Homo sapiens: one gene and its partner. The protein of the gene in region 1 interacts with the protein of each later gene in a biochemical or structural test. Each region holds a gene or a part of one and is shown on either strand. Other genes may lie near its edges.

Region 1 (17,042 bases):
TGTTACATACAAATAGCCTTTTAGGTAAAGTAACTATACATCAAGGCAACCTAAGCTCTGAATAAGAATCTGTCAGCCACAGTATTTCGGGCTTTACTTATTATTTAGTTTAAAAAACTGATCATTGTCTCTGTGATGTAACATATACTGAAGGAATGAATAGGTCTTTGGCAAGTTTGAAAATGTTTTCAGATAATCTTTTCTTTTGTAATTTGAAAATCACTCATCATCAAAAATTCTTATCAATGCTAGAAGTTTTCCATATGGGATTAAGTGTTGCTCACGGCCTAAGGACATTTTTTTTTAACATTAAAAGACATTGAGGCAGAGATTTTGAAAGAATTCACCAATACAAATTATTTTTGAGCATTATAAAATGAATCTCATGACATTTTAATACAATAATAAATACCTGGCCCCATCCCAAAATATTACTTACGTAAAAGTAGCAAAAGAATTTTGTTAACATTGGAGATCATTGCATATAGCTTGCTAATCATTAAAACAGCATATGATGTCATTTAGATTGACATAAAATGAATCAAAGCCTACTCCTGAATAAAATATGCAAAAAATAAGTAAAATGCAAGAAGTGACAAAAAATAAATCTTGTGAAGTTTTCAAAAGGAAAAAAAAAAACCTAAAATGCTTCTTGTTTGAATCTATTTGCTTCATTTTACTATTGCTACTGTGACAATACCAAATAAAAATTATTTTGAAAATGAAGCCAAATCTTACGTTTTAGTCCCTTCAATGTATGGCACTATCTGTATTTAAATGATATACAAGAAGCAATATTTTGGTTTTATAGTATTTTTATCCATGAGAAATTCTCCAGTTGGCCATGTCACAAGTGGTCATTCTATGGGAAAACAGCCAAAAAAAACTACAAAATCAAGCCTGAAAGAGTTTCTACAATGTTTTCACATAACTTAGCAATGAGGCATAATATCCATTCCTGCACACAGGTTATTATTTAAATATAGCTCTAATCGAGTGTAACAAATTTTCTTAGCTACAAAGGAACTCTGATCTAATTTTACATTAGTTCTTTCTCTCATTGTTACCAACTGGATATGCCAAGAGAAGATTACATTTACTGTATATCAAGTTGAAATACTGGCACATGATATAAATACCAGCTACATCTTTGCACGTAACATGGAAGAAAAATATTTTCTTGATTAACTAAATTGGAGCTATTCAATCAATTCAGATATAGTTGCATCAAAACTAGCCATTTCTTAGAATATCAATATTTTAAAATACTATTAGCCTGAGACCTTAAACTGAGAAAATCCCTTATATAAGGCAAATGGTAAAATCTGAAGAAACAGGGGCTAGAAATAAGAAATGACAGCGATTTCTGTGAAATAGACAACCTTAAATAACATACAATTGAGCACTCAAAAAGCCTGGAAATGAAGCAGATTATATACCCAGTTAACTCAAAGTTTTGGAAAACAGAGCTATTTTCAATAGGGAGAGAAACACATCTGACGAACAGTAGCTCAGAAATACTCTGTAGTACCTCAGGCTTTATAGAATGTAGGTGAATATACTTTGCAAAAAATGTACCAAAAATTTGCAAACAAAAACGAGCACGTATGTAACAAATCAAAGCAAATATGAGTAAAAAAAAATTAATTACCCCCAAAATGGAAGGGGGTGGGGGTAGTGGAAATTCACAGACTTTTAGAGATAAGACCAATAAATCATCTACTTTAACATCTTTATTTCATAGATGAGGAAATTGAGGCACAAGGAATGATATGTAACTTCCCAATGTCAGATTAAAGTCAATAAAGAAAAAAATCTAAAGTTGATGAATAACATCTGCAGGAAAATAGAAGCTCTTTCTTATTTGATGAACCACATATGTTAATAAGGTTAACCACATGGCTGGCACATACTGCAGGACACTGTATTTAATAAGGAGACATGAGAGCTGAAGAGAAAGACAATGCAAATTTTCTACTGCTAGAGTATAAGCTCCTGGAAGGCAGTCTGCCTTGCATTAAATGTTTATTCAATTTTTATTTCTAGAACTATATTCTTACAAGTAAGCTACAACTGTGTGTGTGTGTGTATGTGTTTACATTGTCTTGTTTTTTTAGTAGGAAACTGTAAAGACCTATGTAAACCTGAATAAAGCAAATCAGTATTTGACTACAAACTGTAAATACACTATAATGTCCATTCCCCACCCCCCAAAAAAAACTGCAAAGAACTTTTACAAATATACTCATTGAAAATGTAGCAATGACAAATAACTTTAGTTGCTTTGTTTTGAAAATGACATAATAGGGAAGTCTTAATGAGATCTTCAAGAATCATTTCAGAGATAGCATTTGTTTTTCCAGTCTTCAGAAAGATAAAACGAAGACACAGCATTTGGAGCTTACTGGATTAGCTGACTTTTTTTCACCTCTGGAGTACTGGATTTAAACTGTACATGGCCTCTGTTCAATTTTTAGTGGGCACAGGTCCATGTTCAAAAACCAGCACACATATGGGAACTATTCCCAAGCAATTGGTGCTGTGTGGTCAGAAATGGGACAAAATTGGCAGTAAGGGTGCCAGAGGCCAGGACACAGGTGCACCGCTGAGACACACACACGTCCTAAAATCTGCATATGTCTGAGTCACATCTAACTCTACAGACTCTGGTTGTTATTACTTTTCATGAGCATTAAAAAAAAAAGTCAACATCACCTACTTCTATTGTAAAAAATCAATGGATATTACACAACAGCATCAATGATTTTAACATTCTATTACTAAACATTGTATTATTTCTTTAAATCTCATGCCAGAACCAACCCAGACATCCTCTAAAGGAGGAGATACAGAAGTTCTCTTCCCAGGCCCACTCAAAGGGTTCTGGCTCAGACCCTTTTTCCCCATTCCTTAAGAGAGAAAAAAGACATATATTTTCAAGGTAAGAAAATAAGTAAAGTAATAATTTTAGTTGTCATACTTCTTTATCTATCATGACACAACTGGAAGACAAGCTGTAAATATATGTCTTCAGTGTCAAAATGTAAAAAGTGTCACACCCAGCAGTTTCATAGGACATCTAAGTTAGCTGGTAGTCCTCATCACTCGAAACAGTTTTCTAAAAAGCACTTGGGAATATGCTGAAAAAGTTTAGCAATGTGCAGAATATTAAATATCTTCCTTGAAATATACCGGCGGCTCAAGTCTGTCTCTTACTGGGCCACAGGTACAGCTGTGCTAGAAAAGGAAGCTATTAAATATATTAAAAAACTAGAAATATTACCAATAAAGATATCTCATCAAATACATGGTCCCCATTTATCCACAAATAAAATGTTAAGGGTTTAGCAATATATGAAAATCACTTTGAATGCAATAACATCACAAACCCTGTTGATAACATTTAAAAGCATTTTACCCCTAAAGTTCTAATCAATTTTATATAATAGCCAGTAGAGAATTTCTATAAGGAGAGACCATAATATTAGAGTATTGCTCACACCAAATGTATTGTAACTGTGATGTTGCCCAGGACTAGGAGTAAAACAAGAAGAAATTGTAAAAGGTTATTTCATCCTCAGACTCCTTGGGTTCACATTTGGTCCTACTTTCACTAGGAAAATTTATGTTTCAGAGAAGGCCTGAAATACATGATCCATGAATATTAAAGTACTATAAATGAAGTGAGGAATTTGAAGGTGCAATATACTTAATAGTTTACATTCAAAACACGTTAAATATTTACTAAGTGTCACCCAAAATTGGCAATTTGAAACAGATTATTTGGTAATTATCCATTTTTCACTTTCAATTTGATAAAGAATCCCTCGGAGGAAACTGAATGCCACTCTTTAGGTATCAAATAATTTTATTATTCAAATCACTGATATATATTAAACTTTACATTTAACTTTTTCTCTCCTTCTAAAATATTTTCATCTCAATTAAATGGTACCATTTTTCCTCCTGCATTCCTAGTATTTCTGATCTCTCTACACTTTTACTCCACATATATTAAATCTTAGGTTAAGACCTGATTTAAAATGAAACAAAAAAACTCCAATCAAGAGAAGCCTGAGAGTAGAAATGTACAGAAAAGAACAAGAGAGAGTCGTTTTAAAATGTAAAGAATTAACATAAACTTCAAGAAAAATATCATTGTAAGAAAGTTTTTTAAAGAGTAAATAAATTCAATTATAACTGAACAAAACACCAACACTATTTTGGAAATGGAAAGTCCTCTTAGAAGTTCAACCAGTATTTTTCTCTCACTAATTTCATTAATATAATGTCCTTTTAAGTTTATGGAAGGGGTGAGTATACTTAACTCTAAAAACATATTTTTTTTCAATTTAAGACACAATATCCTAGTGTTAATTTATATTATGATTTTTTAAATTAAAATGTATCTAACTCAAGCTCAAAAGTCATACTGAAAAGACCACTGAAGATGTTATCAAATCATTTCATCACAAAAATTTATCATTCTCTCCATCCTACAGCATTTAATATGGTCTAAACACAATAGCTTTGGAAAATCAATTCTGAATACAATAACTCTGATGTAATTGCAAATTCAAAGGAAAATGTAAGTGCATTCGAAGTTGAGGATGTCTGTACATACTTTTAAAACTTTTTTTTTTTCTAACAGGTATAGACTCCCATCAAGGCACACTGACCCTGAAAAATGGCTGAGCTAAAATAAAAGCTGTGTTTATAACGCTGAAACGAAATACTGAGTTCTAAATCTGGTGATTTATCTTTTGACAGCTACAAAGTGCGACACATCAACATTACATTGCCAGATTTAATTTCTCATCTTCCATTTCATTGATAATTGTAAGGTTTAAAATCCATAACAATTTATATGAAGTTCTAGTTGGTCAATACTGTGATCCAGTCCTCATACTGAAACAATGTTAACTTACTTAAAATCCACCACAAAATATTCAATTATTTGACAGATGTTTAACAGAAAGAATAAGGGATCATTAATGATTCCATTTAAAAAATATTTCATCACGAGTGCTACTTTTACTTCAGATTCATGCAAATATGGTGCTTAAAACTGGATCATATTTCAATCCAAAAACCAACGCCCGAAGTATACGGATAATTTCCAAGAACAGAAAAACCATAAATAAGATATAAACTCCCCCAAATTCAAAATAAATTACATAACTTACTCTGTTTTCCTTCTTTGTTTGTCCTCAAAGATGTCATTGAGATTGATTGCCACCTGCCCTAAAAATTTATCCAGACCCACCAGGGACCTGTGCATAACTATAAGGAAAAGAATGTATTTCTCTGGACTTCCCTGAATTAGCAATCCAGGTAGCTCGAAAGAGGCCTCCTCCTTCCAAACTGGCTCAAGGGTTTTCTCAGCTACAGAGGTGGAGTACTTTTCCTTGCCCAGCTGAATTATAGTGTATGTGTCATTGGTACCACTTTTGCCTTTTGGCTTCAGATCTTTGGCTTGGAGCACTGTGACCTGCACGTGGGTTGGAAACCACTTTTGGGCTTGCTCGGACAGCATCATCCTGTCCTGTTTCTCTGCCCCCGAGTTCCCTAGCACAGGCAGTGCCCCTCCCGGAGGGAGAGCCTAATTCCTTAATCACTGCATCCTAAGGACACTTAACGGAAACAGGCAGGCTCAGGGCTCCCCGACTTCCCTATGGCTGATGTCAAAACGCCTCGCGGGGGCAGCCCAGGGGCACGGCCGCTCCGGGGGTCCCCTTTCGTCTGGAGAAACACAGAGGCCCACCATCACCTGGCCGCGCCGTGCAGGCCTCTGCGCGGACCCCCGCCCCTGTCTCCACCTTCCCCAGGCCTGCGGGGCACGTGAGGCCTGGCCACACGGACCCGGGCGGAGGGCTGCGGGGGTGAAGGGAGCCCCCGCCCCAATTCTGCACCCCTGGCCTCCCGCCTGCCTCCTTGCGGCCGAGCAGCCTCCGCTGCCTCCGCGCCTCCCGCCCGCCCGGCGTTCGTCCGCAGGCTCGGCCCGGCTCCTCCTCCCGACCCCGGTAATACGAACCGCCGGCGGCTAACGCGGCCTCGCTCCCTCTCGCAAACCTCTCCCTCCTCCTCCTCCCCCTCGCCTCAGCTCCTCCTCTCGGGCGGGAGCGGGTAGCCAGGGGTGGAGTGGGGGAGGGCGGGGAACGCGGCCGCCCCGGCGCCGGCGGGACGTGGGGCGGGCAGCGGGCTGCAGGGCTGCGGGCGCTTGGTTCGGCCTGGCCCGGCCGGCGGCTCCTAACACCGGGCGGGCGGCTGCGGCGGCACTTCCGGGTTGGCCTTCTCCATGTTGGTCTCGGGAACGTGAAGGGGCGGGGCCTCGAGGTCAGGGGTCAGCACCTCCCTGGTTGCCGTGGCGACTGGAGGCGCGCGACGCGGGCGCAATGGCGGGGACCCGGGGCTTGATGCTGCTTGGGCCTGGCCCAGTGGCGGGTCCTAGGGACGTGGGTACCTGCAGAGGCCGGCAGGTGAGCCCTGGGGAGGGCTGGGGACCGCTCGTGAGAGGAGGTCATCAAAGACCCGGAGACGCCCCTAACTAGGGCGTCTTTGAGGGCAGGGGATCTGTGTTCGCTGTGTCCTGGATGCCCAGTGCCTGGCAGGAGCAGGTCCATAAATGGTGTTGGAACGAATCAGGCCTCTTCACTGACCGAAAGGAAACTTTTCTCCAATCTCCTATCCACCCTTCTCTTTTTGAAAAGTCCGTAAATTGACTGAAAATGACATCCCCCACCCAGACGAAGGGCGATAGGGAAGCAAATAGTTTCCACAGGGAGTAGAGATGTAGGGAGGCACTGGGCTGGCATCAGAAGACCTGGTTCCGGCCGCGCCTCTGCCGCTATCAGTGTGTGTGACCTTGGCCGAGTCATTTCACCTCCATGAGCCTCAGTGTTTTCACGAGTAAAAAAGCCAGTTCTACCTCATGTCTAAGACTCCATCACGACTCTATGGGCTCGACGTCAAAAGGACCCCCGTGGGGACTCACACTGTGGTGGACTGTGCAAATCATGTGGAGACCATGCCCCAAACACGGGTTTCGAGTTTCAGGGGATAATACATGTGCCTTTCCTAGCACAATGCGGCACATAAATCTCCTTTTGCCCCTCTATTTCTCAATTGGAAGAGACGCTTATGTACCACCCCATTGCTGTTAATTCTGTTCGTGTCTTACCTTCCCAAGGAAATTCTAAGTTTTGGGACTGCCTTGTCTATCATGCAGTCCCTTCATAGTGGCTAGCATGCAGCAGACAATTTACTGAATTACTTAATGCCTTTTTTCCCTTTACAAGACTAATTTTGAGAGTAAAACAATATGATACATGTAAATGCACGTTTTTTTAACTTAAATGGCCATAAACATGTAAAGTATCGTGTTTATTATTTTCAAGCAAGGTTTAAAACTTCTCATTCAAGGCAGAATTTTTCATCCCTGGGAGACAGTGTATGAAAAGGCCATGTGTGGAAAACAGAACAAAATCATCGTACTGCGAATATAGCATCTGGATCCCAGAGTGCACAGTTGTCAACTTTAAAGAAAAATATTCTTAGGGATTTTTAAACAGTACGTTGGAACAGTCAATGGTGGAATTTCACCAGGATCTCTAAGGAGAAATAATTTGACACCTGAAACTTACAAAAACCAAATAAACATCATGAAATCAAATTTAATTAAGTTTAGAGTTCTTATACATTTTAAAAGTCTTCATGTCTCTATTAAAGGTTGTAATTAAACAATAGAAAATTATAATAGTGGATGTGTATTTCTGAAGAGCTTAAATTGGTAAGCTTTATTAATGATTATAAACTTGTTTACAAATATAATTTCACTCATCTCTGAAATATAGCCATCTCTAGGGTAGAAGTTGGCAGCAGTAGTTCACAGCAACTCAATAACATACTCCAACACAACTCAGAGAATACTCTAAAGGCAAGAGCTGAACAATTGGAATTACTAACCTCTCTTTCTGTAGCACCTAAATTTCTTTTGAGTTTTCCCAACAGCTGGCTAGAGCCAAAATTGTTTAGTTTTACTGGTGAAATCAGAAATTATGACTTAAAATTTTTTAAGCCAGAATAAGAAAATAACATATTTTTGCCCCCGGGGAAAGCAAATAAACAAACAAACCAAATGAGCTAAATAGAATCTGGGATTGCATTATAATAAGGAAATGACTTCCTATAGAATGTTTTCCTTTTTTGATTATATTAAGAGAATAAAAATATGACAGTGGAGTCAAAGATATGGTTGGCTTATAGTGAAAAATAATGACAATTACATAAGATCTGGGATCAAAGTGCTTCTCCCAAAATGTTTATTGTTTTACAGTTTTAAAAATTCTTTTGACTAATTCTAAGATATACATGGACAACAATTTAAAAAGGAAAGGATTGCGTGTGTAAGGACAACATACCAGAATTGAAGAGAGTCACTTTTTAAAAAATTATCCTATGACTAATGATACATCCGGAAATGTATGGTACAATTCCAAAATCAAAGTCTTGGGAAAATAATATATTTTAGAAGGAAAATGCTGAACATTCTAATTTTAAACTGTTAACAATGCCTACAGCAATGAATAAGAATGCTTTGACCAGAAAGTTAAAATAGTCAATATTTATTCCCCATGAGTAGAGGATTTCACAGATGAAAATATTTACTACATGTTGCCCCTTTCAGTCCCATAAAGAATAAGTCCCATAAGGAGACCTATTCCAGACATTGGGGGAGATTTTCCCTTTGGACAAAGGCATCTCTAAAATCACATCTTGCAAATCTGTTGCAGAACAATTATAATGCTCTCATGTTTAAATAGCCCACTGGGTCAAGCGTGTTAATGCTCCCATGTACATTATGTAATGGATATTAATTATTTTCCAGATGGAGATTCAGAAACATAAGGACAACAAGAAACTTCCCCAAGGTATCATTATAGTCTTTAGACTTCAGACACACACCACACCTCAAATATATACACAACTGAAAGGTATGTAAAATTCATATATATGTACATATGACAAAGCCCCAGAGTTATATTGGAGATACATAGATAGATGATAGATAGATAGATAGATAGATAGATAGATAGATAGATAGATAGATCAATCTCCTTGTAATCGGTTGAAAAGTGAAAGAGTATTTGGCAAATTGACTTGAAATTATTATGGCAATGAACTGGCATTTGGGGATTTTTGGGGATTGTTTTGTTTTGTTTTCATCGCTGGACTGATCAATTTCTCTTCTGGGATTGGGCAGTGTGTGGATACATTTTGTGATGCCCAAGAAGTAACATGGTATGTAGTGTAAAGAGCTCTAGTCAGCAGCCTGGGTCTTAATCCCAGGGCTGCCTATTACTAGCTACATCTCTTTAGGGAAGTCATTTTTCTTCTTTGGGCTGTCTTGTAAAATGAGACTTTTATAGCAGCCACCAAAGGATCCTCTAACATTTAAAGATTCTACATAGTATATCCACAACGCAAAGAAGCAAATTGCATTATAATTATCTAACTGAATTTGGTCAATATACTAAAGCAGATTTCCTTTTTATGTAACATATTAATAAAGAATTCTCTAATTCAGGAGAAAAAAATTATTTTTTAAGATTTCCTGACAGCTCTGTCTCCCAAATGAAGGTAATTAATGATCACAGAAAGCAAGTGAATATAAGTTTTATTAATAGGCTCTGCATGAGGCAATTGACACCAACAGCTCAAGATTTGGAAGAAATTGCATGTATGTGCAAGTGGTTTTGAGCAGCCTTGAACTTTTTAATTGTAGTAATAAGTTTATAACTTCTATCTGTATTATTTGTAGCTTTTTTGAACTGTGAAAATATGCTGAGATTGGTAAGAATTTACGGAGCAAAATACACATTTGCATATAAGAAGGTTTTGTATGGGAACATCTTTCAATTTCCTTTTCATAGTATCATAGTATTCCATTGTATAATTTTTATTCCTACAACAAAATGCATATTAATGCATAGAACACGAATTGATTAACTTTAACTGGTATATGGCATTGGGTGAGATGAATAAGCCCCATTTGATCTTTTCTCCTTCCAAAGGACATTTAAGTTATTTCCACTTTTTCAATTATCATAAACAATGCTGCATAAACATCTATATATCTCCTATGCACATATGCAGGGATTTGTTTTGGTAATTGATGATGAAATTATTGGGAGTTTGTGAATGAGAGTATGGAACACCCATGGGCCTGAGTATTAGACTTGAATTCTAATCCTGGTTCTACAAACTAAGGAGTTATAGACCTGGCAAGCCATATTCTGTCTGTGCCTCAGGGACTCCTTCCAAATCCAGAATTCTCAAACTCCTTTTGTTATATTTACTGAGAAGCAGAGATTATTGCTATTGGAAGAAGATTTTGTGACTACTTTGGTATTTGTCTTCAAATTTCAATTGTCTCATCATCATGAGTCTTTCTGAAATCTTCCAGAACATTGCTGCTTCTACAGATTTAGGTGCGGGTTAATAAGGGCTGGAGAGTTTTGATTATTCCTGAAGGCAATGATTAGCAGAGTTATATAAACTTATCATATTTGTACTTTGTAAACATCTGCTAAATTTTTTATGTTCAATTAAAATCCAAGACAGGGATATTTTTTAAACAAAGAACGGGGTATTCAAATTATAATATTTCTAGGACGGCCTGGAATCCATAAAATTTCTGGGATAATATTTCTGGAAATACATTCATTTAGAGAGCATTAAACCGGTGGGCGGATGGCAAAAACATTTTGTGGTGGTGGTTTTTTCCCCCATGTGAGATCGACTGTTCTCTGCCTTTCTACTTATTTGATCTATGTTAAAAAAAGTAAAGGGCTTTTGTTGTGTTTTGTTTTATTTGTTATATTTTGTGTGTTTGATATAAAGCCTGGGGGAAAATGACATTTTGAAGGATAGATCCAACTCTTCTTGTTCCAGGGCCAGATTTTAAACATTTCTCCTAAAGCAACTTTCAACTGACCTGAACAATGTTTTAGTCCATCTGGATATCTGATCATAAAAGCACTTTGGGCTTAGAACTGTATGCTTATCTTTTACACATTCTGGGTTAGGTCACCTTCAGTGCACCTATAGGTTGTTGCCAGTATGTATTATAATCATTTTCTGGTTATTGGAATGATCATGGCTGATCTGTACAGCCAAAACTGAGCATAAGATGTTGCTTAGCAATGTATACCTAAAGGAGATACCTCATTTCAGGAATTATGTAGTATAGTGGACAGAAATCTTCTGGCTTAAAAAACTAATGTTGTATATGACCTTGAGCAACTTAAAGTCCTCTTCCAGAAAACAGTGAATTTTACATTTCTTCTCTCTCCAAACTTGGATCTTGGGTTATCCAGAATGGCTTCCCAATAGATTCAAATCAATGAGAAAATGCATTTTACTGTTTTTTTTATCAAGTTTATGCAAGATGAGAAGGTATATGGATTGTGCAATTTGTGCCCATAACTATGTTCTTTTAACACAGGAAAATTAAGGAAGTTTTTCAAAGAACCCTATTCCGAGTAAGAAGTGTGTTGCATGAATTTCTAAGGTAGGTTTTGCCCAGATCACCTTTATAATTTTGATGGTCTTCATTTTCCTTTCTGTCTACACTTGGACATTGGAAAAAAAAATTGAGCAAGCTAGCTTTGTAAAAGTGAAGTCTTCTGAATTAGGCACCTCAGGAATCAAGGGCTTGTAACGCTTTCTGAAACAAGATTTGCTGCAAAGTTCCTTGGATGGAGACACTGAACACTGTTGAGTATTCACCCTGTGGTAGATTTTTGTCCCCGGGCACTAATAACAGTGTGACCTTGGGCAAATTGTGTAAACCTTCCAAATTTAGGTTTCCTCATCTGCAAAGTGGGTTGTTGGGAAGATTAAATAGGGGAATCAGGTAAAAGTACAGAGAGGGCCTGACACATAGGAAGTGCTCAAAAGATGCTTGTTGCTGTTGGCTTGATGATGTGTCCCTTCTTTTCCAAGTACTTACTTTCCTCCTATCTGAAGGCAAAGGCTACACAGCAATTGGTCTGGACTGTTCCTCACCAAATAATTAAGGATCCTGAGCTGTGGCAGGTGCCCCTGTAACCCAGCAATGGAGACCCTGAGTTATTTTTGTTTCAAGCCAAACTCAATGTTATTGGATACTCTTTTTCTAAACAAAAGTAACATAGAATAAGCCCTTAATAGTATTTCAAACCTTCTTTTAAAATTCAATAATGACTTTCTAGGTATCATTTTAACAACTTTATAAAAATGAATCAGATCCTTGAGTTGAAGAAAAATAACTCCTTACATTATATACCTATACGTAGCAAAATTGGAAATTTATGTAGTAGATCATGTACCAGGTAGTATTTTAATATTCTAGATTTTCACTTCAGAGAGAATTATGATAAATTTAAAAACAAAAATATAACGTCCTGTGAATCTTACAACAAACATTCTGCTAACCAGTGTATCCATACTCTCCTTCCCTTTCCTCTCCCTCTCCTCCTTTCCCCTCCCCTTTTCCCCTTTCCCCTCCCTTCCCTTCCCCTTCCCCTTCCCCTTCTTCTCCTTCTCCTCCTTCTTCTCCTTCTCCTTCTCCTCCTTTTCCTTCCTTCCTTCCTTCCTTCCTTCCAACAGAAATGTATTTCTCACAAGTCTGGAGATGGGAAGTCAAAGACCAAAGTACCAGCAGAATGGTTGTCTAGTGAGGGCCCTCTTCCTCCTAGATGACAGTCTTTGCACTGTGTCCTCAAGGGTAGAAGGAATGAGCCAGCTCTCTGGGGTCTCTTTTATAAAAGTGCTAATCCCAGTCAAGAGGGCTCTGCCAGGGGCCCTGCCTCCCAATATTATCACCTTGGTGCTAACCAATATTTTCTAACTTCCATTTGCTACTCTAATGTTAACTCTGTTATCTCAATTTTAATAATAATAATAGCTGACATTTGCTGATGACATGCCTTACACTGCATTCATTAACATCTCAATCTCATTTAATTTGAAAGAGATAAAGCAACAGCCAATACACACATTACCACTTTTTTTCCTATCCTGTTACAAAGGAGATGAGGTTGTGGGAGAACTCTCTTTAGGCATTGTTCACATCAGGACACTTGAGAAACAGATCCTTCATATCCTTTGGACAACTCTTGTACTTCAGTTGGCTTTAAGCATTATCAGAGCATCCTTGACATGATGCCAGGTCCTAACACCGCTTCAGTGAAAGCTCAGAGACAAGCAAAAGATAATTGATCTATTTTGTGCCGCATGACATACTCGATGAGCAGCAACATATACTGTGGTGTTTGGCCTCCATAAACTGCAGAGAAATTGAAATATAGTAATAAACTTTATGCACGGACAAAGGGTGACCTAGGATATCACTGAACTCTTCTGCCTTCATAACCAAATGTCAAAATGCTAATAGTCTGTTCCTTGTGGAAAAATGTTGAGTTTTCATTCGGGAGATCAGGACTTACACACTAACTCAACCTACAGTAGACACTTGCTAGAGAATAAAACACAATAATGCACGTAGAATCGTTCTGTAAACTGTAAAGAATTTTACAAATATGAAATTTTATTATGGTTTTAGTCTTGTATCTATTAAATGTATACCTATTAGCATGCACACTTTTTTCTTCTAGCATCAAAGGTTGCTTAAAATAACAGTGGAACATTTAAAAGCAAGAGAATTCTAATTTACCATCATTCAAATTATGTTAAATCCAACTCAACTTTATAAGCTAAGGAACATGTGAAGGATAAATAAAAATTTGATAGTTAAGAAGATAAATATATGCAGATAAATTATGTGATGAGTCAAATTGATTATTACAGGACAATATACTGTATTAATAAAACAGACTAAATTTAAATGTATTGTGCAATGGCAAACCTAGTGCCTTCTTGGAAAAACATGCCTTAACAAGCTCATGTGGTTGCAAGGTTGATAATATCTTGATAATAACTTATGTTGTTCTTATTCCTAGTAATTGCTGGCCTCCTTATGACCTTCCGCCTAGTTTCAGGCAGTAGCTAGGAGAGCTAGACTAACTGCTCCAGAGAAGTGAGGCCAAGGCATGCAACAGAGTCACTTCTCCGCTTTTCCATTTCAAAGTAGACAATAGGGGAAGATATAACAAAAGCCAAAATTTATGCAGTAAAGAAAAAATTGGGGAAGAATGCAATTAATGAAAGACCTACACTATACAAGGATTTCACTGGACGAAGTGAAGAATAGGGAGCTTGTAAAGAAGATCAAGATAGTTGGACAGGTGGAATGTCTCCAAGACCTTTCCACTCGCCTCCCCACTTGTTGAGCATGGGAGCTGGGCAAATGGATGATAGACCATCCAGATAAATTTTGGCATCTAAAAGTAATTGTCACTTGCATCTTGTTTCTCAAGAAGGACCTTGAAAGTAAGCAAACTCCTAGAGCTCCCTAATCCCATGCACCACATTGGCTTGGAGCAGCAACAGTAGCAGTAGAATAGCAGAGCAGGGGGACTCAAGGCCAAGACGGTCTTGTTACAGGCAACTCCCTGAGCCTCCTTCCATCCGAGAGGTACCTGAGAACCTCTAAAAATTTCATTTCCCCCTGAAAGGTGAGAAAGTGACTGAGAGAGGGCTGATAAACTAGGGTCCTCCAGGTCGGGATTGGGAAAATTCAGAATATACATGGATAAAGAACCAGGGACTGGCCATGATAGGACCTACACCTATTACTTCATATGACTTGCTAATAGGAGTCAATGCTGACAGCCATAGACCTTCCTGGGCTTCTCCCTGGGGCCTCAATTTCAGTCCAGCGTTAAGAACTTAGTTTTGGTCTCAGGGAGAAGGATAGGGAGATGGAAATTTTACCTGAGTTTAAAAACCTGAATTTATGCAGATATGACATTTTCTGGATACATTTTGACAAGAGTAGAACTAGGGGAATCAAAATAGAGATTATGTTGAGTAACAGGGAAATAGAGTTACAGTTCTTGCCTATCATCTGAGTATATGGACTGAAATACTGTACCTGCTACATACATTGTAAGCAAAGTGAGGTCATGGCCAGAGCCCAAGGGTTTGAGGAGCCTTCTATGACGTGATGAGATGGTCTTGGGTCCCCTATATGATTAGCTTGTGGTGGTACATTAGGACTAAATATTCCAAATGCATTAACATAAAGCTGAAGTGATGTCCTTAGTGAACTTGGTCTTAAAAATTAAGAGCATTTTGGTTGGGTGACCTACCAACAACATACAGGGAAGAGATACAGGATCTTGGTTGATTCTCACTGCAGTAGACATTGATTTTGTGGTGTAGCAGCTTGTAAAATTAATGCAAATTTGAGATGAACTAATAAAAATATAGTTCATGAAGGTGCCCCACTACTTGCCCTACCTCTCCTCTCCTGTTACAATAGATCACCCATCTTTGTTCCCATCTGAGGACTCAGGTAATGGACTTCATCTCTTCTTGTCTTCTCAAGGATTTTGCATCTGCCATTATCCTTTCTCCCTCCTGTATCCTCAGTTGTTTTCTTCTCTACTGGATCAATGTCATCAACATACAAATATTATCTAGTATTTCTCATATTAAAAAAAAAACTTAACTTGCACATACACCCCTGTACCTCCTCCAGCTACCTTTCTGTTTCTTTTTAGAGCAAAACTTATTGAATGAAAAACTTGTTCATATTTACTTTCTCTTTCTGCTCTTTTTCTCTCGAACATACATCAATCAGATTTTTGTCGTCACCCCTCTACGGCTACACATTGTCACAGTCCATATCTTATTTGGCCAATTAGCAGCACCTCACACAGTTTGTTGCTTATTTTTTTATGGATTAGGTAAAATGAGTGTTTACATTTATAAAGCAGGACATCTTAGGAGAACTCCAAGGTTTGGATTGATGGCCTGTTCTATTGTAATATTTTGTATATTATAGTTTAGTGTCATTATGATTCATGGTGATAAGTAGTAAAGACTTAACCCCAAAGCTGGCTTACTATGCTTATTTAATGTATTTTTTTCAATTATATTTAAAATATATTTTCTATTCATTCAGTGCATCCACTATAAAATTTATTAGATAACTTGAATGAGCTGCTTCTCCAAAAAGCATGATCGCTAAAGAGCACTCTTAGTTTACTAGCTGTAACAAGGGATTTGAAGCTGGGACTTCAGGCATAAATATTTGAGTCTTGGAACTTTTCTCTGGTTTTGTGATATATATAGTAACCTACAATTTTATACACATAATATGTAATATTAACATACTATATGTAATTTCTATGTTTAGTATTGTAAACTTCTTAGAAACATAAATACATTGTGGTATACATTGTGTACTATTATAAATATAATTCATAAATATATAACATAATCACAAACAATATATACTAATTATGTTATAGGCATATATAGTTAATATGTTGAATTTTATATGTATGTATATAATTTATATATTCTTTGGCTGCAGGAACCTGAGACTCATACCAGTTAATTTGTTTAGAATGGTTTTGTTATATTGATATATGTGGAGCAAATTAGAGGTATGGAATTTCATGGATATTTAAGCCTAGGAGTCAGTCCTGGCCTAGGTGTCCTGGAGTTTAGCGGGAGTTTGAGGGGTCTTGGCAGCAGGAATTCACGGCTTATACAGGTAATCCACTCCTGACGTGCCTCGCTCCTTCTCCCTATGTCTCCATCTCCTCACTGTCACCTAGTGCTCTGTATTTTGGCTCTCCCTCCCAGCCCCTGCCTACTCCTGTTCTGCTTCCTCCTCGTAATGCTCCTTCTTCTTGCCAGGATTTCTTGTGGCACTGACTTACAGCTTTTAGCCTTAACTTCCATGGTTGAGAGGAAGCATCAGCTTTTCTTGAGGCAGGACATATCATAGCAGCTCTGGCTCCGTGACCTGTGGTTGGGTGGAGGGAGAGAGCTAGGGCTCTGAGATCTGCATAGGATTTCCCTTTACTTAGGGATGTGGGCGGGACCAGTTCACGTGAATGGAGCTGTGGTAGGCAGATGTGATG
Region 2 (14,914 bases), on another chromosome or scaffold:
CCTATGCTCTTGATGTCATTTTTAAGAACCATAAATACTTTCCCCTATGTTTTCTAAGAGCTTTGCAGATTTAGCTCCCTTTAAGTTTTTGATCCATTCAGAGTTAATTTTTGTATATGGTATAAGGTGAATGTCCCACTTCATTCTTCTGTATGTGGATATCCAGTTGTCTCAGCACCATTTGTCAAAGACACTGCCCTTTCCCTCATTGAATGGACTTGGCACCCTTGTCAAAAATCAATTGACCAAAAATATGAGGGTTTTTTTTTTTTCTGGGCCCTTATATTCTATTGGTCTGTATGTCTGTCCGTATACCAGTACCATACTGTTTTGATTCCCATAGCTTTGTAAAAAGTTTTCAAATGGGAAGTGTGAGTCCTCCAATTTTGTTTTCCTTTTTTTTTTTTTTTTTTTTTTTGAGACAGAGTCTCACTCTATCACCCATGGAGCGCAGTAGTGCAATCTTGGCTCACTGCAACCTCCGCCTCCCAGGTTCAAGCAATTCTCCTGCCTCAGGGAATATAGGCATGCACCACCATGCCTGGCTAATTTTTGCGTTTTTAGTAGGGAAGGGGCTTCACCATGTTTGCCAGGTTGGTCTCAAACTCCCAACCTCAGGTGATCTGCCCACCTCAGCTTCCCAAAGTGCTGGGATTGCAGGCATGAGCCATTGCACCTGGCCAATTTTGTTATTTTTCAGGATTGCTTTGGCTAGTCAAGATCCCTTGAAGTTTGATATGAATTTTAGGATTTTTTTAGATTTCTGCAAAAAACGTCATTGGGATTTTGATAGGGATTGCACTGAATCTGTAGATTGCTTATGTAGTATTGTCATCTTAAGTCTTCTAGTACATGAACATGGGGTGTCTTTCCATTTGTTTAGGTCTTGACTTTTTCAGAAGTGTTGCACCTTCTTGGCTAGATTTATTCCTAAGTATTTTATTCTTTTTGATGTTATTGTAAATGGAATTGTTTTTCTTTCTGATTATTCATTACTAGTGAATAGAAATACAACTGATTTTTATGTGTTTTTTTTTATTATGTACTTCGCTGAATTCATTAGCTCTAGCAATATTTGTGTGTGTGTGTGTGTGTGTGTGTGGATTCTTTCAGTTTTTCTACATGTAAGATATGTTGTCTGCAAGAGGATCATTTTAAATTGGCTGCCTCTTATCTCTTTTCTTGTATAATTGCCCTGGCTAGAACTATACTGAATAGAAGTGGTAAGAACAGGCATCCTTATCTTATTCTTGATCTTAGAGGAAAAACTTTCTGAGTGTGATATTTGTGATGTTAAATGTGGGGTTTTTACATATGGTCTTCATCATGGAGGGATTTATCTTTTTATCATTAAAAAAGTTGGATTTTGGCAAATGCTTTTCTCCATCGATTGAGATGATGTGGGTTTTTTCCTCTTCATTCTGTTAATGTGGTATATTACATTGATTGATTTTTATGTTGAACTAACCTTGCTTTCTGAAGGTAAATCTTGCTTGGTCATGGTGTATAATCCTTTTAACCTTTTACTGAATTCAGTTTGCTAGTATTTTCTTGAGGGCTTTTACATCTGTATTTATAAGGGATGAATATAGTTTTGTTTTCTTACAGGGTCTTTATCTGGCTTTGATATTAGGGTTATACTGGCCTCATAGAATGAGTTAAAGTGTGCCTTCCTCTTTGATTTTTAGGAAGAGTTTGAGAACTGGTGTTAATTCTTCTTTAAATGTTTGATAGTCTTCACCAGTGAAGCCCATCTTGGGCTTTCCTTTGTTGGGAAATATTTAATTACTAATTCAATATGCTTACTTGTTATAGGTCTATTCAAATTTTCTATTTCTTCTTAAATCAGTTTTGGTAGTTTGTGTGTTCCTGGGATTTTGTCCATTTCATCTAGGTTATCCAATTTGTTGGTGTTAAATTTTTCATAGTATTCTCTTATAATCCTTTTTATTTCTGTAAAATTGGCAGTAATGTCCTCACTTTCATTTCTGATTTGCTAATTTCTCATTTTAGTCTTCCCACACACCTGTAATCCCAGCTACTTGGGGGGCTGAGGCAGGAGAATCACTTGAACCTGGGAGGCGGAGATTGTGAGCAGAGATCACACCACTGCACTCCAGCCTGGGTGACAGAGCAAGACCCCATCTTAAAAAAAAAAAAAAAATTGTCAATTTTTTGAACCAACTTTGATTTCATTTGTTTTGGGTATTGATCTGTTCTCTATTTTTTCCATCTAATTTATGTTATTTCATTTCTTCTAGGTTTAGGTTTAGTTTGCTCTTTTTCTGATTCCTTAAGGTATACAGTTAGGTTATTGATTTGAGATTTTTTTTTTTAATGTAGACATTTACAGCTACAAACTTTTTAGCACTATGTTTATCCCATCCCATAAGCTTTGGTTTATTATATTTTTATTGCCTAATTCCCCCTGTGATTTCTTTAGCCCATTGGCTATTTGAGAACTTATTATTTTCCATATATTTGTGGATTTTGCAGCTTTCATTTATTGATTTATAGTTTCATTCCATCCTAATCAGAAAAAATATTTCATATGGCTTTAATATTTTTAAATTTATTCAGACTTGTTTGAATATTGGAGACTGTTCCATATGCATTGAGAAGAATGTGTATGCTGCTAAGTGGGGTGTTCCATATGTGTTTGTTAGGACTAATTGGTTTATAGTGTTGTTCATGGCCTCTATTTTCTTATTGATCTTCTATCTGGTTCTATCCATGATTAAAAATGGGGTATTGAAATGTCCAACCATTACTGTAGAACTATCCTCCCTTAAAGTCTGTCAATTCTCCCTTCAAATATTTTGGGGTTCTGTTGCTAGATGCAGATGTTTATTATATCTTCTTGATGAGTTGAACCTTTTATTAAAATATAATGTCCTTCTTTGTCTCTGGAAATGACTTAATTTCTCCTTCATTCTTGAAGGGTAGTTTTGCCAGATTTAGAATTCTTAGCAGACAAGATTTTTTCCTTTCAGGATTTGAGCTGTGTCATCCCACTGCCTCCTAGCCTCCATGGTTTCTGATGAAAAACAGCTGTTAATCTTATTTGAGGATACCTTATACAGTCAGCCCTCCATATCCACAGGTTCCATATCTGCAGATTCAGCCAACCACAGATTCAAAATTCAGTATTCACAGGATGCAGAACCTGTAGTTATGGAGGGACAACTTTTTCTATCTATAGGTTCTACAGGGCCGACAGCAGTACTTGCATATCCATGGATCTGGGTATCTGTGGGAATTCCTGGAACCAATCCCCCATGGATACTGAGGGATGACTGTATGTGACAAGTCACTTCTTTCTCACTGCCTTCAAGACTCCCTCTTTGTCTTAGGGTTTTGACAATTTAGTATAATGTGTTTCACTGTGAATCTCTTTGCCTTTATCCTGCTTGGAGTTCATTGAACTTTTTGGATGATTACATACATGTCTTTCATCAGATTTGGGAAGTTTCTGGCATTATTTCTTCAAATATTTTGTTGCCCCCTTCTTGCTCTTTTCCTTCTGGTACTCCTGTAATGTGTATGTTGGTATACTTGATGGTGTCCAATAGGTCTGTTAGGCTCTGTTCATTTTTACCTCATTATTTTTATTTTCTTCTCAGACTGGATCATTTCAATTGCTTTATCTTCAAATTCACTGATTTTCTTCTGCCTGCTCAAGTCTGCGGTTAAACTTCTCTAGTGAATTTTTCATTTCAGTTTTTGTACTTTTCCTAAAATTTCTGGCTTCAAATAGGAAGCAGGGAGGGGCTCTGTGCCTTTAAATTTTCCAGTTGATGCCACTAGTGGAAGCCATTGCATCCCAAGGAATGTCTAAACCAAGACAGGCATCTGCTGGGACCCACCAGATCAAAGGGCACAACCCCAAATTTTTGGAGGACAAGGTCCCACTGCCTACCCTGGCCAGCTAGCTACTCCAGGAATGTGAGCTGCTATCCCCATAGCTTCAGGGGAGCTGAAGAGAGGGGGATAGTAGCTGGGTCACACACACAGTTCCCTTAGCAAAGATCAGCAGCCTCTCCCTTTACCAATCAGTCTCCCGATTGTTATAAATGTCCAATCAAGTTCCAGAGTTATGAGATAGTTGACAATCACTGTTTCTACTTCAAGGTAGCTTCAGTGGAGGGACCAATCCCTAGGGCTTCCTACTCTGCCATTTTATGTGATGTACTCTTCTCCCATTCTACAGGTAAAGAAACTGAGGCATAAAAAATTCAGGAATTTGCCCAGGGTGGTGCCAGGATTAGAGCTCAGCTGTCTACCTAAAAAAAAAAACCCATGCCCTTGGCCACTTCACTATAGTGCCTCTCCATATGGTTTGCACCTGAGATGTATTTTATATTCTCCCTTAGACAATTTTTTAAAGAATGCTAGAATTGGGAGAGTGCTTACAGCCCTCTGATCTCCAAGAAGCCTAAGTCAGGGCTTCTCTCCCCACTAAATACCTCAAGGGTGAGGAGATCACATTCTCCTAGTCCTGAAGTTCTACCTAATTGTCGTAGAAATCTTTCCATGATATATGCCAACTCACTTTTGTGAATTCACTTAAACTGGCTATTTTTAGGGGTACTCAAACTTTACATGGTCTTATTCTTCCCCATAGGCACAACTACAAGAGCGGAATGACCCTCAGCAACTGCTATTAGATGCCAAGCACATGTTTCCTGTTTTGTTTCCATTTAATCCATCTTCTCTAACCATGGACTCAATCCACATCCCAGCGTGTCTCAATCTGGAATTCCTCAATGAAGTCTGAAGATGCATGTTTCCAGCATTAGTTTGATTCCCAATGTGAGCAAGAAGGAAGTATATACAGTAAAGTAAATTCAAGGATCTGTTAAATCTGGTAAAAGTAGATCAAATCAGAGATTGACAGCCTGTGGAGGGTGCTGAACTATACAGAATTAGACACAACTATGTCATTATTTTTTGTACCTACTGCTCAGAATAAAAACACTTGAAATATGGAAGATTTTAAGTTTGATTTCAGTCCAACACATATACATAATTTATAGACACCAAGCAGTCCCCATAGACATATAAAAGGTGTCAATTCTATAAAACGAAGCTGCCTAGTTTTGATCTTTGCATAGAACTAGAGAATGTCCAAATTAAAATACCAAATATATATAAGTCACATAAATTGCCTTCAAAGGGCTTTAACAAATAATGGTACTAATAACCATGATAATGGCATATACTGACATTTCCCAAAGTTTGCAAACCATAGGTGTGGTTGAGTTTGTGGTGAGATGTTTTAAGAACAAAAATATGGGGATGAGACTTCTGAGAAATATTCCCAAAATATTTTTTAATGGCTGATTATACACAGACAGTGGTGTAACTGACCTCCAGACCAGACATTTTGAGTACTGGTTTCTGAAGCAAAATTAGAAGTGCCAGTCCTCAGTGTGCTCAAACGCTTTTGTGTTATCTTGATTTAATGGAAGAGATTATTAAAATGCTGCTATCCCAAACTCCAAGTGAGAAAGATGGAAAAATATTTTGTTTCTGATGCTAGTCCATACACTTTCCAAGTCCCACAAAACTTTCACAAAAATGTATATAAGCTAAATATTAGAAACGGATAACAAACTTGTTTTATTTATAGATGTAAAAACCAAACAAGTCAATATGAAAGCTTTTAATCTCTTAATACCATTAAGCTTCCAGTAAGAGCATCACATAATGCTCTACTGTTCCAGAAACCAAATAGTAAAACAAACTAAAGTTCGCACATCAGATCATCTGAAAAACCTTCAAAAATAATCAGTTCAGGGATATTATACAAAAGTTTGGGTTTTTTTTTTTTAAGAGAATAAAATGGCTTAGGTCAACTTTCCCTTTTCAGGTTATTTTCAACGTTTTTCAAATTTAGCACACAAAAAATTGTAAATATCTCTCCCACAAAATAAGGATTTTAAAAAAGTAATTCAGTAATATAACAGGCTTAGATGTTTGCTGCTCTTAGAATTTTTTTTAACTTGTTTTTGGTTTCTTCAAAAGCAAGCATTCAATTGGAAACCCATATTCTTTCCACACTTTTTTTTACTGTCTTTTCTGTATTTCTTGATAGCAGTATGCTGTTCCCATAAGAAAAAAATGGTATTTGCAAATCATGGAAGAACAGCCTCTGTATTACATTGAGAAAATAAGATTTATCCATGAATTGGAAGTAGAACAGCCTGCCTTCACCCTCTTTTACTCAACCACCCAACTTAAAAGGCTCTTGGAAACACAGCACACTCCACGCTACCTTCTGCACTGTGCCCTTAGAGCACAGCTTCCTCAGTTGTTCTCTGCATCTCCTGGGGCTTAGGCCAGTCTTAGCCTGGGTTAAGGCTGCTGACATTGTGTTCCAATCAGTTGTCATGGGCATTATCCCCTCTACATCCACATTAAACATGCCGGCTTCTCTTGGGCATCGGCAGAGCTGTGCCTTTTTCTTTCAGTTACAGTTACATAATCACTGACGTCCATGACACTTACCCATGGATCCATGTGCTGACTTCATTTAGAAGGCCAATCTAAAACAACTGGGTTTGTGGCTACCTCTTTAAAGTTGTTTGTGAAGGATAATTTGTTTTTTAATGCACTTTAGTTTGAAAGTGAGTCTCTTATGTAAGGACCATCCTTAAAAGACCAAAAATGCCTTGTTAGAGTGTTAAGGAGTTTTGACATGCAGTGGTTCCACAAACACAGTGGCTTACTATCCTTATACACTGTCTTATACCATCATTCTCTCCATCTCTCTTGGTCACTACTCTCTGCTGTCACTGGTTAATCACTAGGTGCCAAGAGCTTACTGAATAAAAGCTTGGCAATTAGAATAAATGGGGAGGGAAGGACCTTATGAATAGTCCATTTAGCCTAAGAAATGGCAGATTTAGTTCTTCTCTTCCAAAAGATAAAGGTATATCCTGGAATTGTACTTAAAACTTACAGATGACTAACAAATATATACTTTATATGTAGTTAATATTTAGATCTGTCTTATTTAATACTTGGAGGCTAGAAGAAGCATCTTTAGGGGAACTATATAATCTTTTGTTAGCATTTTCTCTGCATTTTAAAAAATCATTTCAATTCAAACATTTATCAGTGTCATGAAATCAGTAATGACTCTTTAACAATTCAGGTTTGAACTCTGCATTAGATGTCTCTTTAATTTTTTAATATTTAAAATTTAGTTGACATTTTTTTCACCAGGTGCCTTTAGCGGTTACTAAGATAACTGACATCAGTTGTTTCTCTGAAATAAGTGTTGCTGTGGGAATAATTTTAATGTTCAAGGTGATATCATGGGGGAGTTTTGTCTTTTAAAACATTAGAAGCATTTTAAATATTAAGAATCAAATATTTATAGATCAAAACTTGTGTTTTAAGTATTATACGGGACCTGTTTACTTATAGTAAATGTGAATGTACACATGAGTTGTTGCTGAAGCTGACAAGCATATTACATACATGCATTTTCCCTGTGCCCTCATAGTTGCAGTTAGAGTTCCAGTACCTGTAGGCTCACCTGGGAGGCAGATTAGACCCAAAGGTAGATGTTTTTCCCCTTTCCATGAAGCATGTCAGTGGGAGTTGCTTCCTTTGATTTCCCTAGTACTAAATTTTAAGGCTTTTGTAAAAACAAAACAAAACTAGGAGCTTGGAACAGTTAAAAATCAACACTGCTACCATCAATTCATCAAATATTTACTTAGAGCTTTCATACATTAAGATTCCAGTAACCAATAAATTAGAATTCATTTCTTCTGCATAAAGTAAATTTTCATACACTTGACCTACTAAGACAGCAAGGGTGTCCTAAATTGAGGCATTTGTATAATGCCTGCATAACTAAATGGTCACTAAAATGGGACAGCATGGGGCAAGACCTTGTAGTTCTTCACAGAATATTTGTGGTCAGTTTCTCCAATTAATTTGCTGCATGAGCCAAATAACCATAATTCACTTTTTATACCCACTGGTGCCATAATTAGAGAATTAGAGGGTGTAGACAGAGGTTAATGCCAATGAGAAACACAGGACAGGGTTTTTTTTATTATAAAGGTCATTAGATACAAAAGATTGTTTTTCAAAAAATTTCTAATTCTAACAAAGGGGATCAATCAGAAATGAAACTAAGCTACTTTCTAAAGTGACACTGTATCAGAATAATCCAGATTTGAATATAACATTTTGCCACCAACTGACATTTAGATGAAGGACTGCCTCTCTGAAAGAGTTCAGATCATATTCAGGGGTGAATCCAACACCATGGAAGAAAGACTACTGATGAAAATATTTTCCCACTTTGCACAAATCTGTAAACTACACCTTTGTTTATAGAAAAATGCTTGTAATAGTCACTGTAATATTTAGCTGTGGATAAAAATTTGTGGAAATAAATACTTTTGAATAAAGAGGTGTGCCAAATCTAAATGAAATTTAAAACTCTGCAGCTACAGGTTGACAAAGTTTCTTTGTAATGCTCTCTTGAGAAGCTTCATTATGGGGCCTATATTCTAATACGTGTCAAGATCATTTAAACCAGAGGTCAGCATCTTACAGTCCAAAAGTTGGGGGCAGGGAGAAACTCTCAGATAACAAGGCTTATTGAGCAATTACTTTAAAGCTATGGAATTAAAGGCAGTTTTGGTGTAGGCAAAGACAAGTAGATCAACGAAACAGAATAGGGAGTGCAAGGATAGGCCCAATCCTATGTATAACATAGCATACGGTAGAGATGGCATGAAAAATCAGTGGGGAAATAGTCATAAGATCTGTATGGAGGAATTTGTAAAATATAAGTGAAAAACAATGACAACATTAAAATGGAGAAATAATTAGGTACAAGAATTCGAAGACTCCATACCACTAAAAGTTTGTCAGTTGTCCCCAAGTTGATCTATAGATTAAAAATCAAAATTTCAACTGTTTCTATGTGAAAACTGACAAGCTCATTATAAGATTTATATGGAAGAGCAAAGGCCCATGAATAAGGAAGACCCTCCTTGAGAAAGTGGGAAGCTTTCCTTAGCAGGCATTGAGACTTACAAAATTTCAGTAATTAAGATGTGTGAGGATGACAGACATGGAAATTTTTTTTTTTTTTTTGAAACAGAGTTTCGCTTTTGTTGCCCAGGCTGGAGTGCAATGGCACAATCTCAGCTCACCGCAACCTCCGCCTCCCAGGTTCAAGCAATTCTCCTGCCTCAGCCTCCCTAGTAGCTGGGATTATAGGTATGTGCCACCATGCCCAGCTAATTTTGTATTTTTAGTAGAGACAAGGTTTCTCCATGTCTGTCAGGCTGGTCTCAAACTCCCGACCTCAGGTAATCCACCCGCCTCGGCCTCCCAAAGTGCTGGGATTATAGGCGTGAGCCACCGCGCCCGGCCCTGGATGTGGAAAAATTGACCAGTGGAACAGAATAGCCCAGAAACTGAGCATCTATATGGAAATACTGATACATTTTTTCTTAACTGGGAGTACACATCAAAATCACCTGGAAATCTTTAAAAAAATTTACACCCAAATTTATGGAATAAGACACCTCCAGAGATGGTGCCCTTCCACACCCATTGTTAACCTGACCCACCTAAAAATATACAAGAAGACATCCCCAGGGATGGTGCCCTTAAGCACCCATCATTAGAGACCACTATTGAAATATTTCATGATCCAGAAAAATGGTCACAGTATAATTAGTCCTCAACGTCACTGATAAGTTCTAGGAAACCACGAGTATAAACAAAATGACGTAATGACACCAATTTTAACATAAGCTAGTTGATATAAACAGTTCCTTCGGCATATTTATGGTCATACAAACATCACCAAATTTTTTTTTTTTTGAGATGGAGTCTTGCTCTGTTGCTCAGGCTGGAGGGCAATGGCAAGATCTCAGCTCACTGCAACCTCTGCCTCCTGGGTTTAAGTGATTCTTCCTCCTCAGCCTCCCGAGTAACTGGGATTACAGGCGTCCGCCACCATGCCTGGCTAATTTTTTTGTATTTTTATAGAGATGGGGTTTCACTATGCTGTCCCGGCTGGTCTCAAACTCCTAGCCCCCAGTGATCTGCCTGCCTCGGCCTCCCAAAGTGCTGGGATTAGAGGTATGAGCCACCATGCCCGGCCAAAACATCAACAAACTTCTAAATAAAGACCAAAACACTTCTAGAATTAAACACTGAAATGAAAGCTATATATACATTTGAGAAAGATTAATAAAAACAAATGAGAAAGTTGCCCACTTATTCCATTTAAGAGTCACTGAGGGCCCACCTCTCCTGGCAGCTCAGGGTGCCAGGGAGGCACCAGGCCTGGACAGGAAACCATCCTGTCACTGGGTGTGCTCACAAACCCACACTCAGACTGGGATCACTTAGACACATCCATTCACCTCATGTACACAGCTTTAGGACATGGGAGGAAATGAGAATCCAAAGAAAACAGTCATGGGGATCTCACCAGTGGAACGTATCCATGTCTGTATGAATGAGGCTGCAGCCTCAATTCTTGCCACCTCAGAAGAAAGAATTTGAGGGCCGTACAGCAGAAGGAGAGACCAAGGCAAGTTTTAGAATAGGAGTGGAAAGGCAGGAAAGTACACTTGGAAGAGGGCCAAGTGGGTGACTTGAAAGAGTCAAGAGCGTGGCTTAACCTCTTGACTTGGGGTTTTATATGTTGGCCTACTTCTGCGGTCTTGTGTTACTTCTCTCAACTCCTGAGATCTTGTCAGGAAGTGGCTGATCACCAGTTTCATGTGTTTTCTATCGGGAGACTGCCTTTCTCTGATGCTGGCTGCGACCAATGACTACTTTAGAAAGACAGTTAACAACTGCCTTGACCATCACTGGATGGTCACAAGATGCTCCTGGTGTGTGTGTGGAGGGGGGAGCTCTCTCCTGCCCTGCTCATGCCTGACTAGGTACCCACTGTAACAGGGAGAACCTGCAAACTCCACACACACAGTGGCCCTGGCCAGGAAGCAATTCTTTTTTTCTCACCAACATTATGTCAAAATGACAATGAATGAAACAATGTTATGTAGGGACCTGCTGTATACTATGCAGTGAAAAGTTGACTTTTGAAACCACCTTCCAATCTAAAGATGGATTCACTTTTTGAGTGGCTGACCAAAGAATACCCTCACTTGAGGAAAGCCTTCAGCTCATTCTCAAAGAGGTTTAGTCCTAGCTTCAAAGCCTCAACAGGAAAACCACATTTGAAAAGAAGCAAATTTCATACAAGATACACTTAATAACAGTTCAGAAAGAGAAAAGCAGACTGACTTCCAGGAACTGATTTGAAACTCAGAGCTAGGCCTGGGTCATGCTAGAAGCTGGCCTGGTCCTCTGTGCTGGGCCGTGTTGTTCTTTTGCTATGAACAACCTTATAAAACACCAATATCAGATGTGGCCACTCTGACTACACTAAAGTGATATGAAACAAGACTGTAATTTTGCCCAGGCACAAAAACAAGATCACTGTGTAAACCATGTAACACCAAATATGCCCTGTCCCAGGTAATATGAGGGACTGTAGCTGCTTTCCCAGGTGCAGCTTGAGCCTAGCTCTAATCAGCCCTCCTTCAGGATAAGATGATACTGTGACGGTTAATATTAGTTGTCAACTTGATTGAAGGATGCCTAGATAGCTGGTAAAGTATTGTTTCTGAGTAGGTCTGTGAGGTTGTTGCCAGAGGAAATTAACATTTGAGTCGGTGGCCTGGGAGAGGAAGAGCCACCCTCAGTGTGGGTGGGCACCATGCAATTGGCTGCCAGCGCAGCTAGAACAAAGTGGGTGGAAGAAGGTGGGATAAGCTGGCTTGCTGAGTCTTCTGGCTTTCATCTTTCTCCTGTGCTGGATGCTTCCTTCCATTCCTCCTGCCCTTGGACATCAGACTCCAGGTTCTTCAGCCTTTGGACCCTTGGACTTACACCAATGGCTTGCCAGGAGCTCTCAGGCGCCCTTTGGCCACAGACTGAAGACTACACTGTTGGCTTCCCTACTTTTGAGGCTTTTGGACCCAGACTGAGCCATTCCTGGCTGAGCCTGCTGATGGCCTATTGTGCGACTTCACCTTGTGATCCTGTGAGTCAATTCTCCTTAATAAACTCCCTCCCTCCCTCACCTCCCTCCCTTCCTTTCTTTCTTTTGCTTTTTTTTTTTTTTTTTTTTGAGACGGGGTCACAGAGTCTCGCTCTGTCACCAGGCTAGAGTGCAGTGGCACCATCTTGGCTCACTGCAACCTCCGCCTCCTGGGTTCAAGTGATTCTCCTGCCTCAGCCTCCCAAGTAGCTGGGACTACAGATGCACGCCACCACGCCCAGCTAATTTTTGTATTTTTAGAAGAGACGGGGTTTCACCATGTTGGCCAGGCTGGTCTCGATCTCTTGACCTCGTGATCCACCCGCCTCGGCCTCACAAAGTGCTGGGATTACAGGTGTGAGCCACCAGGCCTGGACTTAAACTCCCTTCCATATATACATATGTTCTATTAGTTCTGTCCCTCTGGAGAACCCTGAATAGTACTGATACCCAAAGACTTGTCCCTACTTCCTGACAGTACCCAATCCAGAGTGAACCCGTACTTCCTTGGATCCTCCCCAAATCACCTAACCAAACCCCAAATCCTACCACCCTTTTACTGAGATGTGCTGCAGTTCCCAAAGGCACACCCATGATGTGCAATCTCCCTTCTTCCAAAGAACATTAAACCCAACTTGTTCAACTATAGGTGTGTTTCTGGAGGTTTCTGGCTGGAAGGCAACAACAGCATTGTCTCCTTCTACCAACATTAGTATTTTGCAGAGTAAACTTAGATCCAAGGAAGATTTGCCTAAGGTTATGCTACTAAATGAAAGTTGAGCCAAAGATATAGAAGCTGCAAATAACTTTCAGACAAGTAGAGAAAAAAGAAAAACAAATATCTATCTTAAGTTTGAGACAGTGCCTTAGGGTTACTGGGAACACATCAAGACTTAGGGTAAACTTAACATGAGGGAGTTTGGCGTATTGGTGTCTTTATTACTTCCTGTCTACATTCCCTTAGAATAGGTAGCTAGGCAGACTTGGGCAGGGCAGGAGAAAACCTCCCCCACCCCGCCCAGGAATGTCAAGCGACTATCAGGTGATGGTCAGGCAAGTTGTTAAACTATCTAAAATAATCATTCGTCTCAACTGGCGTCAGGGAAAGGCATTCTCCCAATAGATGGAAAATACTAGAATCTGGTGATCAGCAGCTTGTGGATAAGATTTTGGGAGAGTGGGCTCAAACATGCTCACTAAGAGGCAAAATGGTAGAGTTTAACTGGTATATGAGCTTCCTCTAGGAACAAGACTGGTAAGGGAGGAATGTCTCTAGTGAGTATGTGCACAACTTCAGTAAACACACTGCACATGCCACCCCTCCCAAGTGCCGGCAGGCCACTGAGCATGCCGACAGCCCACCCCAAGGGAAAAATCGGAAGAAGTAATGCAAGGCCTAGAACCGTACCAATGTATCAATCCCCAAATCAAGGGTCAGGTGGCACAGCTGAATCTCTCAAGTTGCCCACTTGGCCCTCTTCCAAGTGTACTTTACTTACTTTTATTCCTGCTCTAATACTTCTTAATAAACTCTCACTCCTGCTCAAAAACTTGCCTCGGTCTCTCACTCTGCCTTATGCTTCATTCCTTTGAGGAGGCAAGAAGTGAGTTGCTGCAGGCCAGTACGGATTTGCCACTGCGAACAATTTCATTCATCTGATGTTCTTGCTTGGCAACTTGAACTTTCTGAAGAGTTAGTATTTGTTTTAAGAATAAAACCACATTCAACATTTGCGTTCTAATTAACAAAAATTGAAGTATTTCCAAAGCAATTAGATTAACAGTGAGCACACACATAACGTTCCAAACTACTCAAGATCAGCAAATTCACTTATCTCACTCATTCAGATTCATATACTCATTTTTAAAAGTTGTCCTAGGCCCTACTGACTTCGTCAGCTTTCCCCAGTTTCCATTACTGAAACTTCTAAAGCCACTGCTGCTTAAGCCACCGTCAATTTTTAGTGTTATAGGAAAGCAGGAGAAACTGTGTTTAAGCATAGGAAAATAAGTAAGGAAATGATAATATTGCATTTATAAAAATACTGAGAGTTAAATGTCTAAAAGTAGAACAATAACTTTACATCTCATGAAAGACTCCACATCTAGACAAAAATTATCACAATTTTAATATACATATTAAAATTACAAGAATACATAACTGCTTAAACATGATGTAAACCTGAAAAGGACTAAATATTTTCAAAAATAACTTGTTTCAAGCAATTTTGTAGCTTACGTGAAGGACATTTTTTATCCCAACTTCTATTTTGAAAGAGTTAAAACCTACAGAAAAGTTGCAAAAATGGAAGAATGTGGTACACGCCTGTAGTCCCAAGCTACTCAGGAGGCTGGGACAGGAGGATCCCTTAAGCCCAGGAGTTTGAGGCCAGCCCTGGCAACATAGCAAGCAAGACTCCCCTCTTAGAAAAAGAATAATGGGCCAGGTGCAGTGGCTCACGCCTCTAATGCCAGCACTTTGCGAGGCCGAGGTGGGCAGATCACCTGAGGTCAGGAGTTTGAGACCAGCCTGGCCAACATGGCGAAACCTGTCTCTACTAAAAATACAAAAATTAGCCGGGCAGGATGGCAAGCACCTGTAATCCCAGATAATCGGGAGGCTGAGGCAGGAAAATCACTTGAACCTGGGAGGTGGAGGTTGCAGTAAGTGGAGATCATGCCACTGCACTCCAGCCTGGGCAACAAAGCAAGACTGTCTCAAAAAAAAAAAAAAGAAAAAGAATAATGAACAACTGTATATTCTTCATTTGGATTCCCCAGTTGGTAATATTTGGCCATATTTGCTTT

What was found.
Region 2: the proteins of RAB11FIP2 (region 1) and MYO5B form a complex in vitro, tested with the Homo sapiens proteins (2 studies listed by BioGRID).

What each region holds. Positions count from the first base shown.
Region 1 is NC_000010.11:118,040,625-118,057,666, forward strand, and holds the start of RAB11FIP2 (rab11 family-interacting protein 2), read right to left. Parts: upstream 6,318-17,042; 5' UTR 5,540-6,317; coding exon 5,187-5,539; intron 1-5,186. UniProt on the Homo sapiens protein: A Rab11 effector binding preferentially phosphatidylinositol 3,4,5-trisphosphate (PtdInsP3) and phosphatidic acid (PA) and acting in the regulation of the transport of vesicles from the endosomal recycling compartment (ERC) to the plasma membrane.
Region 2 is NC_000018.10:49,816,334-49,831,247, reverse strand, and holds the end of MYO5B (unconventional myosin-Vb), read left to right. Parts: intron 1-4,624; coding exon 4,625-4,777; 3' UTR 4,778-8,459; downstream 8,460-14,914. UniProt on the Homo sapiens protein: May be involved in vesicular trafficking via its association with the CART complex. The CART complex is necessary for efficient transferrin receptor recycling but not for EGFR degradation.